Homo sapiens: one gene and its partners. The protein of the gene in region 3 interacts with the protein of the main gene of each other region in a pairwise test. Each region holds a gene or a part of one and is shown on either strand. Other genes may lie near its edges.

Region 1 (3,653 bases), on a different chromosome or scaffold from region 3:
CTAATTCAATGGTCAAAACATTTTTTAAAAAAAGCTATTCTGATACCATTGTTACTATTAGTAGGATGTGACTTAGAAAACAACACAAATATTACAAATTTTGACAAATAATTACTAAAAGTAAATAAAAAGCAACTTTATTGGAAATCTCTCTCTTTTGAACACTTTTACTTTCCATAACTTTATGGATATGTGGATGTGTATACTTATTAAAATGAGTCCAGGTGGCTGGGCGCTGTGGCTCACGCCAGTAATCCCCGCACTTTGGGAGGCCAAGGCAGGCGGATCACCTGAGGTCAGGAGTTTGAGACCAGCCTGGCCAACATGGTAAAACCCCATCTCTACTAAAAGTACAAAAAATTAGCCGGGCATGGTGGCTCGCGCCTGTAGTCCCAGCTAGCCAGGAGGCTGATGCATGAGAATCACTTAAACCCAGGAGGCAGAGGTTGCAGTGAGCCAAGATCGTGCCACTGCACTCCAGCCTGGGTGACAGAGCAAGACTCCATCTCAATAAAAAATAATAATAATAAAATAAAAATAAATAAAATGGGTCAATGTTGAGCATCAATTTAATTCTTATTTTTTGTTTTTATCAATGTAATGCTGGGAAACATAATGAGGAGATGGAAATGGGAGGAATTTTGTTATAGAAATGTCACTTAATTTTTTGAACTCCAACATCACATGGTAGTGAAATATCAAAACTTATTTTAATTGTCAATGTAAGGAAAAATTGAGAAGACAAATTTCATGAGTACCCTAATACTTATTCATCTGGGTCATCTCAGTCATTCATTGTGTTTGACTAAGCTATTTTACAACCCTGTAGAGATATAAGTTAAGTTGCAGAAAACTGATAGTAAAGCAAGTCATACAGACATGCAAATAAACTTTATGCTGTAGAAGTCCAATCACCTTCCCTCTCCCATTGTGGAAGAAGCCAGTTTTACATGTATTAAGCAAATTCATTCCAGCATTCTTATAAATGATCTCCTTTGAACTGACTGCAAAACCTTTCTGGCTCTCTCATTTTTTAAATAAGTTTGAAAATGTCTATTTTTTATTTGTATGAGAGTCAAAATTTCATTCTTTTTTAGAGTTTATCCTTTAATATCGGTTTACTATTTGATTAGACTGGCCTTCACTTTTTGTTTTTTAAGATAGATTTAGAAAACACATGATTTGCAAAAGGGTCTCTGCTCAGGCATTACAGTCATTTGCTTTCTCACCCCTGAAACGAAATTTATACTCAGAAATTTCCCCCTTTTTTGTCCTCCCCATCCCCTAGAGTTTTACATCCTTGGGCAAAGCAATTTACTAAAATGGGTTAGACATAAACCATTTAGTAAAATGGATTAGGAAAATGGGGTAGACATACGCTTTTCACAAGGAAAGCAAGAGGAAGGTGATTATGGAAAAGCAGATGGGAAAGAGAACTTGCGTCTCCATTACAGGTCCATTCTCATCAAGATTAGTCTTAGGAAAAAAGCACATATGGAAGAGGAGGATTTGGACCTTTATATTCTCAAAGCACCTGTGCACATGTACCTTTGGCAAACCTTTGCATATAGTAAATGCACACAGTTTAAAGATTGCTGAACCAAAATAAGAAGCATAAAAATGAGTTCCATCCCCAATTATATATTATATAGAGACTCACACTATTAACAAGTCTCTTTTTAAAATTTTCAATTACTGAAGACTTTCAATTGATAATTGTCCACCTTCCATTCAGAAAGAGGCATTGAGGGGAGTGAATTCCTAAGGAAGAGAGAGGCTGTTCTGAAGCAAGATGGAAGGAGGGGGAGTGAAGGGTTGTCTACAGTGAGAACTTTGAACACAGAGAGGAGTACTAAGAAACAGAGAAGAAATTCAAATGGAGGAGAAATAAAAATGTAAACTTAAAAAAAATTGCCTAAATAATTGTGGATCTGCATTGTACCCTGAAAATCTCTAGCCACAGCTTCTAGCATGACTGCCGAGAGATAGACTATCTGCATTTAGCCTACCTCATGTCAAGTAACCAATCAGTTGAAACTGTCCATCAATCAACCTAACTCATTAGGCCAGACATTTGGTTTTCCTGCCACTGGAGAGGGGTGAGTAGCAATACCAGGACAGTATACATTCGATGGAAAGATCACACTTATATCATATTGATCTATCACTTGCACAGTTTGGGTAATACACAGGTTACTATGTTAGTTTCTTTCAGGCTGCTGTAACAAAACACCACAGACTGGATAGCTTATAAACAATAGAAATTTATTTCTCACAGTTCTGGAGGTTGGGAAGTCCAAGATCAATGCAGATCAAGGCCCACTTTCTGGCTCATAGATGGCACTTTCTTGCTGTGTCCTTACTTGGCGAAAGGAGCAAAGGGTCTCCCTTGGTTCTCTTTCATAAGGGCACTAATCCATTCATGAGTGCTCTACCCCATGACCTATTCACCTCCCAAGGCCTTCCACTCCTAATACCATCACAATGGCAGTGAGGATTTCAACATAAGAATTTTGGGAGGACATAAACATTCAGACCACAGCAGCTTCGAAGCTAAGATTACAAATGGATGCCTCCAACTCCAGTATATCACACTATAACCAGACTGAACTATACATGCAACACTTGGAAGCCTATTTTACCTGGTTCTGAAAAATCTGATCATCTCATTTTCTTAGTGTGGTCCAATTTAACTGTTCTTGTTGCCTTAGGATAAAATAATTCATTTTCATAAGAATCCAGTGATTCTTTTTTTTTTTTTTTTGAGACGGAGTCTCACTCTGTTGCCCAGGCTGGAATGCAATGGCGCGATCTCGGCTCACTGCAAGCTCTGCCTCCTGGGTTCACGCCATTCTCCTGCCTCAGCCTCCCGAGTAGCTGGGACTACAGGCACCTGCCACCACGCCTGGCTAATTTTTTTTGTATTTTTAGTACAGACGGGGTTTCACCATGTTAGCTAGGATGGTCTTGATCTCCTGACCTTGTGATCTGCCCGCCTCAGCCTCCCAAAGTGCTGGGATTAGAGGCATGAGCCACTGTGCCCGGCCAAGAATCCAGTGATTCTTCTCTGACTAAAACTAAATAGAAACAAAGTAGGAAATGATGACAATCATCCGAATAGATCCTTTGTGACTTATGTTTACAGCTTAAGTGTCATCTTCTATTCATTCTATCTTCCTTCACTGATCTTCATTTTTGCATCCCCAGATGCTAGGGATATAGCAGTCACTCAACATAGGGGGAGTAAGTCAACCAATGGATCCCAGAATTTCTCTGGATCTCCAAATGGAATGATGCAAAGTAACAGAGGTTATTTTCTCATTAAACTGTGCATAATAATAGGACAACAAAGCTGTCTATGTACTACAGGTCTGTTTTGTGTGTGTATGTGTGTGTGTGTTTTGAGATGGAGTCTCATTCTGTTGCCCACACTGGAATGCAGTGGCATGATCTTGGCTCACTGCAACCTCCGCCTCCCGGGTTCAAGCGATTCTCCTGCCTCAGCCTCCCAAGTAGCTGGGACTACAGGCACGTGCCACCATGCCCAGCTAATTTTTTTTTTTTGTATTTTTAATAGAGATGGGGTTTCACCGTGTTAGCCAGCATGGTCTCAATCTCCTGACCTTGTGATCACCCGCCTTGGCCTCCCAAAG
Region 2 (3,653 bases), on a different chromosome or scaffold from region 3:
CCGGGTTCAAGCGATTCTCCTGCCTCAGCCTCCCAAGTAGCTGGGATTACAGGCACCTGCCACCACGCCCAGCTCATTTTGTATTTTTAGTAGAGACGGGGTTTCACCATGTTGACCAGGCTGGTCTCGAACTCCTGACCTCAGGTGATCCACCCACCTCAGCCTCCCAAAGTGCTGGGGTTACTTACAGGCGCGGGCCACCGCACCTGGCCTATTTTATTTTTTTTGAAACAGAGTCTCACTCTGTGTGTGGCCCAGGCTGGAGTACAGTGGTATGATCTCGGCTCACTGCAACCTCCGCCTCCCGGGTTCAAGCGATTCTCCTGCCTGAGCCTCGCCACTAGCTGGGATTTCAGGCACACGCCACCATGCCTGGCTAATTTTTATATGTTTAGTAGAGACAAGGTTTCACCATTCTGGCCAGCCTGGTCTCAAATTCCTGACCTCAGGTGATCTGCCCGCCTCGGCCTCCCCACGTGCTGGGATTACAGGCGTGAACCACTGCACTCGGCTTGATTTTGTATTTTAAAATGCCATGTACTTTTTCTTCATTCTAAAACCACCGTCCTTTCAGTTAAAGATATTTCATGAGCCTCACGGATACACTCTTGTTCAGTCCCCACAGGATAGCTCCCCGAGCCTGTTTTAGAAATTTGAGTGGAGTTCAGTCATTTGAATAAAAAATATGGCATCCAACACCCCAAGAGAGAGAATCCTTGCACTGAATGCGTTCTGTTTGTTTCACACTTTTTAAAAGTAACTCCCACGTTTGCAAAGTGCTATTGAAGGGGATGGAGTGGATGGGGCGGGGCTGGAGGGGGGCTGCCTTCCCTCACGGCCGTTCTCTCCCACAGGGGACTCGCTGGCCATGGATGTGTCCTCAGTCCACCACAACAGCACACTCCTTCGCTACTCCGTGTCCCTGCTGGGCTACGGCTTCTACGGGGACATCATCAAGGACAGTGAGAAGAAACGGTGGTTGGGTCTTGCCAGATACGACTTTTCAGGTAACTCAGAATAATGCAGACTCGCTCCCCGCTGGTCGTGCCCCGACTGCCTTCACAGATGTTACCTGACTGAATCCACTGAGCACCGTCAGAGGTGGGCCCCCACCTGCTCACAGACGGGAAGCTAAGGGCCTCATGAAATGTGCCGGGGCCAGAACGTGGCAGGGTCTGGACTGGAACCTGGATTGCTCTAAACCAGATCCTGCCCCCTGGACCCAAGCATAAGCCACAGAGTAGACACCATGACGGACGCAGTTCACTCCAGAACCCCAGGTGCTGGAACCCCAAGACGCCAGGCCACCAGCCTCTCACATCTGGTAGGCAGGTGACAGAGGCCACCCCAAACTGTTCAAGTGGAAGTATTAATTGGAAAAAAAATAGTTTTTAAAATATATTTTTTAAAAATTTTTTTGAGACACAGTCTTCCTCCGTCACTCAGGCTGGAGTGCAGTAGCACGATCACGGTTCACTGCAGCCTTGACCTCCCAGGCTCAAGTGATTCTCCCACCTCAGCCTCCCGAGTAGCTGGGACTACAGGCACATGCCACCGTGACCAGCTAATTTTTTTTTTTTTTGTATATTTTTGTAGACAAAGGGTTTTGCCCTGTTGCCCAGGCTGGTCTCAAACTCCTGAGCTCAAGCAATCTGCCCACCTCGGCCTCCCAAAGTGCTGGGATTACAACCATGAGCAACCATGCCTGGCCTGTAAAACAATAGTTTTATAATCACTCTGAGCTTATTAGTCAAAGTGGCAAGAACTTTGTGCAGAAATTCAGCCTGGGATATCTGTGTGGAAGCTCTTCTGTAACTTCAGGCACAGGTATCCTTTACTTCATTCAACAAGGTTGCGTGGTTTTGTTGGGGTTACACCGTAGCTAGCCATACAAGTGAGATACACTCAGCACGTATTTGTTGAGCCCCTGCTCTATGCCGGGCCTGGTTTTTGAGGCAGGGACGTGTCCATGAACAAAACAGGCAAGATCCTGCCTTCCTGCGGCTCGGCCGCAGTGGGCACAGAGGAGGAGGAGTGGGAGCGAATGCCACGCCGCACTCCCTGAAGCCCAAAAGCTTTCATTCTCCACAGTGCTCTTCTCACCCCAGCAGGTGCTCCTGCCCCACTTTATAGCGGAGAAAACAGGCACAAAGAGGTTGCCCGCATCCTGCCTCACTCTTTCTTGAGCCCAGTGGTCCTCAGACTGTGGTGGGCACCTGCATCCTCTGGAGGGCTTGGTAGAACCCAGGCTGCGGGGACCCCCCAGAGCATCCAACACGGCAGGTCTGGGTGGGCTTCGGAACATGCAGGTCCTCCAGGCTCCCGGGGCTGCTGCTGGGGCCTCGGGCCAGGCGGCGGTGACCTGTTACCCGACCACAGAGTTTAGAATGAACCAGAAATGAAGGCTGGTGCCAGTTCAGACACAAGAGTTGCAGTCTGCACACATCAGGCAGTGGGTGCGACGTCACCAGCTTTTAAACGCTGGAAAAGGAGAACTTTAAAAATACATAGAATTGGCCAGGGGCAGTGGCTCACGCCTGTAATCCCAGCACTTTGGGAGGTCAAGGCAGGTGGATCACCTGAGGTCAGGAGTTCAAGACCAGCCTCGCCAACATGGTGAAACCCTGTCTCTACTAAAAATACAAAATAAGTCAGGCATGGTGGTGCACACCTATAGTCACAGCTCCTCGGGGGGCTGAGGCAGGAGAATTGCTTGAACCCGGGAGGCAGAGGCTGCAGTGAGCTGAGATCGTGCCACTGCACTTCAGCCTGGGCAACAGAGCGAGACCTCTGTCTCAAAAAAAAAGAAAAGTAGAATTTCAGCCTGGGCGACATAGGGAGACCCCATCTCCACAGAAATTAAAAACAAAATTAGCCGGGCACCCCAGTTACTCGGGATGCTGAGGCAGGAGGAGCCCTTGAGCACAGAAGGTGGAGGCTGCAGTGAGCAGAGATCAGGCCACTGCACTGCAGCTGGAGCGACAGCCAGACCCTGTCTCAAAAAAAAAAGAAAAGAAAGAAAGAAGAAAATATGTAGACCATGAGGTGTGCCATTCTCGCTGCCCGGTCGACTTTCCCGCCTCTTTACAGTTCGCTTTCAGATAAATCTGTATCAAATTAAATCGAGTAATTCCTGATACTAAAATCTTAACCCTTATGAGAGAAAGAAATAGTGATTTGGCAAACTTTACGAAGCTTGAAAAGATTTAATGAAATTAAAAACTAGTGTGGCTTGAAAATTAAAACCTAAGAAATGGCAAAGTGAGGTATTTATCTAAGGCTTATTAAGAAAGGGAATACCGAGAAAATTAGAGAAGCCGCGAGAATTTTAGGAAGCGGTTTGGGTTGTGCCATTCTCCCGACTGCCCTTTGTTGAGCCCAGTGTGGCTCTGCCTAGAATGCCCCTGGGATGCCCCCTCCCTGTCCCTGCCTGCTGGGGTGGGGTGGTGGGCAGCCCCCCTGCATGCCTGGCCCCCCCCTTTGCCCTCAGCCCATCACCACAGGCAGTGGCTGCAGCTCTGTCCCTCCCACCAGGATGAGAGCCCCGAGGCAGGAGACGCCTTCCGGGTCTCTGGATCCCCATCCTGGCCACAGGGCCTGAGATGCTCTCAGGAAAGCGGGTTTGGGTTCTGTGGCTGTGAGGCAGAAAGCAC
Region 3 (3,653 bases):
GTGGACCTCATCCACGAAGGTGATTGCTCCAAACTCATGGGCCACATCACACAGCTCTTCCAGTGGGCACACCGCCCCTGAGGAAAGACCAGAGACTGCTCTGAAGAGCTTTTGCCGCTTCAGAAATTTCTGTTTTGGTTAGAGTCAGAACAACGTAAACTTCTATTCTAAGGTATCATTTTCAATATTGGAAAGAAAATGAACTTCCTCTAATTTCTAGGTTACCTGGGGTCCCAGAGCCTAGTAAAAGCCAGAATAGAAAATCCACTTTCACCCAAATCTATTAGAAAAAAGTCCACCAATTACAAATCTTGGCAGAATGCAATACTACACAGCAATAAAAAAAGAATGAGACCATGTCCTTTACAGCAATACGGATGGAGCTAGAGGCCATCCTAAGTGAATTAATACAGGAACGGAAAAACCAAATATCGCTCTCACTTATAAGTGGGAGCTAAACACTGAGAACACATGGACACAAAGAAGGGAACAACAGACACCAGGGACCGACTTGAGGGTGGAGGGTGGGAGGAGGGTGAGATCAAAAACTACCATTGGGTACTATGCTTACTACCTAGGTGATGAAATAATTGGTACACCAACACCCTGTGACACATAATTTACCCATATAATAAACCCGCACATGTACCCACTGAACCTAAAAGTTGGAAGAAGAAAAAAAAAAATCCTGGCAGAAAGGAAAAGAAAATTAAAAAACACAACAGGCCAGGCGCGGTGGCTCACGCCTGTAATCCCAGCACTTTGGGACGCCAAGGTGGGCGGATCACAAGGTCAGGAGATTGAGACCATCCTGACTAACACAGTGAAACCCCGTCTACTAAAAATACAAAAAGTTAGGCCAGGTGCGGTGGCTCACACCTGTAATTCCAGCTCTTTGGGAGGCTGAGGCGGGCAGATCACAAGGTCAGTAGATCGAGACCATCCTAGCTAACATGGTGAAACCCTGTCTCTACTAAAAATACAAAAAATTAGCTGGGCGTGGTGGCAGGCGCCTGTAGTCCCAGCTACTCAGGAGGCTGAGGCAGGAGAATGGCGTGAACCCAGGAAGTGGAGCTTGCAGTGAGCCGAGATCACGCCACTGCACTCCAGCCTGGGTGACAGAGGGAGACTCCGTCTCAAAAAAAAAAAAAAAAAAAATTAGCCAGGCGTGGTGGCAGGTGTCTGTAGTCCCAGCTACTCGGGAGGCTGAGGCAGGAGAATGACGTGAACCCGGGAGGCGGAGCTTGCAGTGAGTCGAGATCGCACCACTGCACTCCTGCCTGGGCAACAGAGCGAGGATCGGTCACAAAAAAAAAAAATTAAAAAACACAACAAAACACCATACTTTTAAAGAGTTCAGGCATAGTTTTTCATCTTAGGTTTCAGAGGAACCTCTATCCACACTTACCATCCATTGAATGGACAGTTTCAAATGCCACAATCTTGGGGACTGAGGGGTCAGATCTTTGCAGCAGTTCTCTGAGGTGGCTGACATCATTGTGGCGGAAGATGTACTTTGGCACTCGGCTGTTTCGAATCCCTTGGATCATGGAGGCATGGTTCCCAGAATCAGAGTAAATCTCACAGCCTAAGACAACAAAAATGCTATTTATTGCCATGTGCATCGAAGACAAATTATTTCCTAGAGAAAGACAACAGACTTTTCCTTGGAAATGATGCTTTGAAAATGCCTAGTAGGAAAAAGACACTGTGTGCCAGTTTCTTCCTGGCAAAATAACTAGTTAGTGCTTCCCTTGTGAGAAGGCCCAAAGGTGTAGAATAACCTTGTGGCAGGCCATTAATCTGCTCTTAAATCTGACTGCCTCACTCCAAACTCAATCAAGAGCTAACTAAATGATTAAGAGACTTCTCCAAAGGATCATCTTAGAATACAAAACATATTTGAGGCAATTAGCTCAAGGATGAGACGTTTCAAGTTTGAATTTTCACTGGTATCACGTTCTCCTGGAACCCATAATGTACAGTCAGCATTTCATGCTTGACCCCAGAACAAATGCCCAGATAGGATTATGATTTTCAATTGAGAGGTTCTGGTAAGGCTTCTTTGTTGCCAATATTCTTGTTATTACTAAGAAACCCAAAAAACTCGAAGGCACTCATGCCAGGCTTCCTTACCTGGCATCATCTTAGCCAGGGTGAAGAGGGTTGAGTCATTGGCCACAAAGCACGAGGAAAACAAGAGTGCGGCATCTTTCCCATGGAGGTCTGCCAGCTCCCGCTCTAAGTCCACATGGAATTTACTAGTTCCAGAAATATTTCTAGTACCACCTGCCCCAGCACCATGTTGTTTCAAAGTGTCCCTGTTTAAAAATACAAACAAAACCAGAAAATAAAGCTCATGGTTCTCAACACCATGTGAATTTTTTCCCCTTTCTAGGATCCAGGAGACTGAAACATGTTGATGTAGCAACTCTCTCACTGTGAAACCTGGGGTCAGAAATTTCAACTGATTTCATCTTCAGACTAGGTGGGAGAAGGTGTCAATGCTAGGGTGATGATACCTCCAGGAATCATCAAGAACAAGTGTTCATTTAACAGTCAGTAAGTGCTTGGTATTAGCTGAGTTTCTTTTCTAAGAAACTAAGGTTTATTTTCTGAGAAACATTATTCTTTCCAATAACATGTTAGCTTAAGAAAAAGCAAACTCTAGAGGGACATCCTGGATGGTGGTTACCCTCTGCAAGCCAGTCATGTAATGTTTGGATATATCACTATCATTAAACCTCAAACCGGGACCCTCTTTAGCAAGCCTTTGGAGAATCTGGCCAGCAACTCTCTCCAGCATCCCTAGGATGGTGAGCCTCCTGAAGGACGAGTGATGGGATCTACCATCCTTTTTAACATGTCTTTTGGAGTAGCTTTTTCTCTAGCGCTGCTAGATTCGTATTTCTCCACTCACAGCCACAACCAAGGATGTCTCTGTGAAAGACTGCCTGGTGTTAAAGGCACACTCACTTGCAGAGTGATAGAAAGTGGACTGACGTGTGTGGTCATTGAGCCTATAAGCTTGAACCCTCACAAGTTAAGGGGCTCCAGCAGCTACCTGCATATTAGAGTTCCTTTAAAAGTAATCTGTAGATATTTTTCAGAAGCTAAGAATAGTATTTTGCTATGGCACACTTTCAGCTACTGAATGTTCCCTCCATAAAAGATCCAACCCCTATACATCATCATTGGCTTGCCAAATAACAACAGTAATATTTGAAAGCCAAGGGCTACTTACATAACTGCCCCACACACCCGTGGGTGGCGACTCATTCCTAGGTAGTCATTACTGCACCAGACTGACACTTGCTTTTTGGTGATGAGGGAGTCTGAATAGTCATCTGCCATGGGGAAGATGTGTGCTCGCCGGTTCACAGTTTTAAAAACTCGATAGGTGTGGTCATTCTTTTTCTCATCAATTTTTTTCTCAAAGAAACGATCATACTGAAAAGTGGAAACAGCTAAAAATTGAACAAAAGACAGTACAGAATGGTGGTTGTGAAACACAGCTGCATTTTGGTGAAATACAACAAGTCTCAGCTTGGCAACTGAGGGAGATCCTGGGCAGGTTATTTGATGTCCTCATCTTGTAAGTAAATAAGACTGTATGTCGTGTTTGGCTCAGTGCCATGTGTAGACGGTAAGTA

The links.
Region 1: the proteins of ALAS1 (region 3) and CAP2 interact in binary tests that used the Homo sapiens proteins (3 or more experiments, as listed by UniProt).
Region 2: the proteins of ALAS1 (region 3) and CERK interact in binary tests that used the Homo sapiens proteins (3 or more experiments, as listed by UniProt).

Annotation. Positions count from the first base shown.
Region 1 is NC_000006.12:17,399,976-17,403,628, reverse strand, and holds part of CAP2 (adenylyl cyclase-associated protein 2), read right to left. Parts: intron 1-3,653. UniProt on the Homo sapiens protein: Involved in the regulation of actin polymerization.
Region 2 is NC_000022.11:46,696,667-46,700,319, reverse strand, and holds part of CERK (ceramide kinase), read left to right. Parts: intron 1-854; coding exon 855-1,007; intron 1,008-3,653. UniProt on the Homo sapiens protein: Catalyzes specifically the phosphorylation of ceramide to form ceramide 1-phosphate.
Region 3 is NC_000003.12:52,204,507-52,208,159, reverse strand, and holds part of ALAS1 (5-aminolevulinate synthase, non-specific, mitochondrial isoform 1 precursor), read right to left. Parts: intron 3,468-3,653; coding exon 3,245-3,467; intron 2,322-3,244; coding exon 2,137-2,321; intron 1,589-2,136; coding exon 1,409-1,588; intron 78-1,408; coding exon 1-77.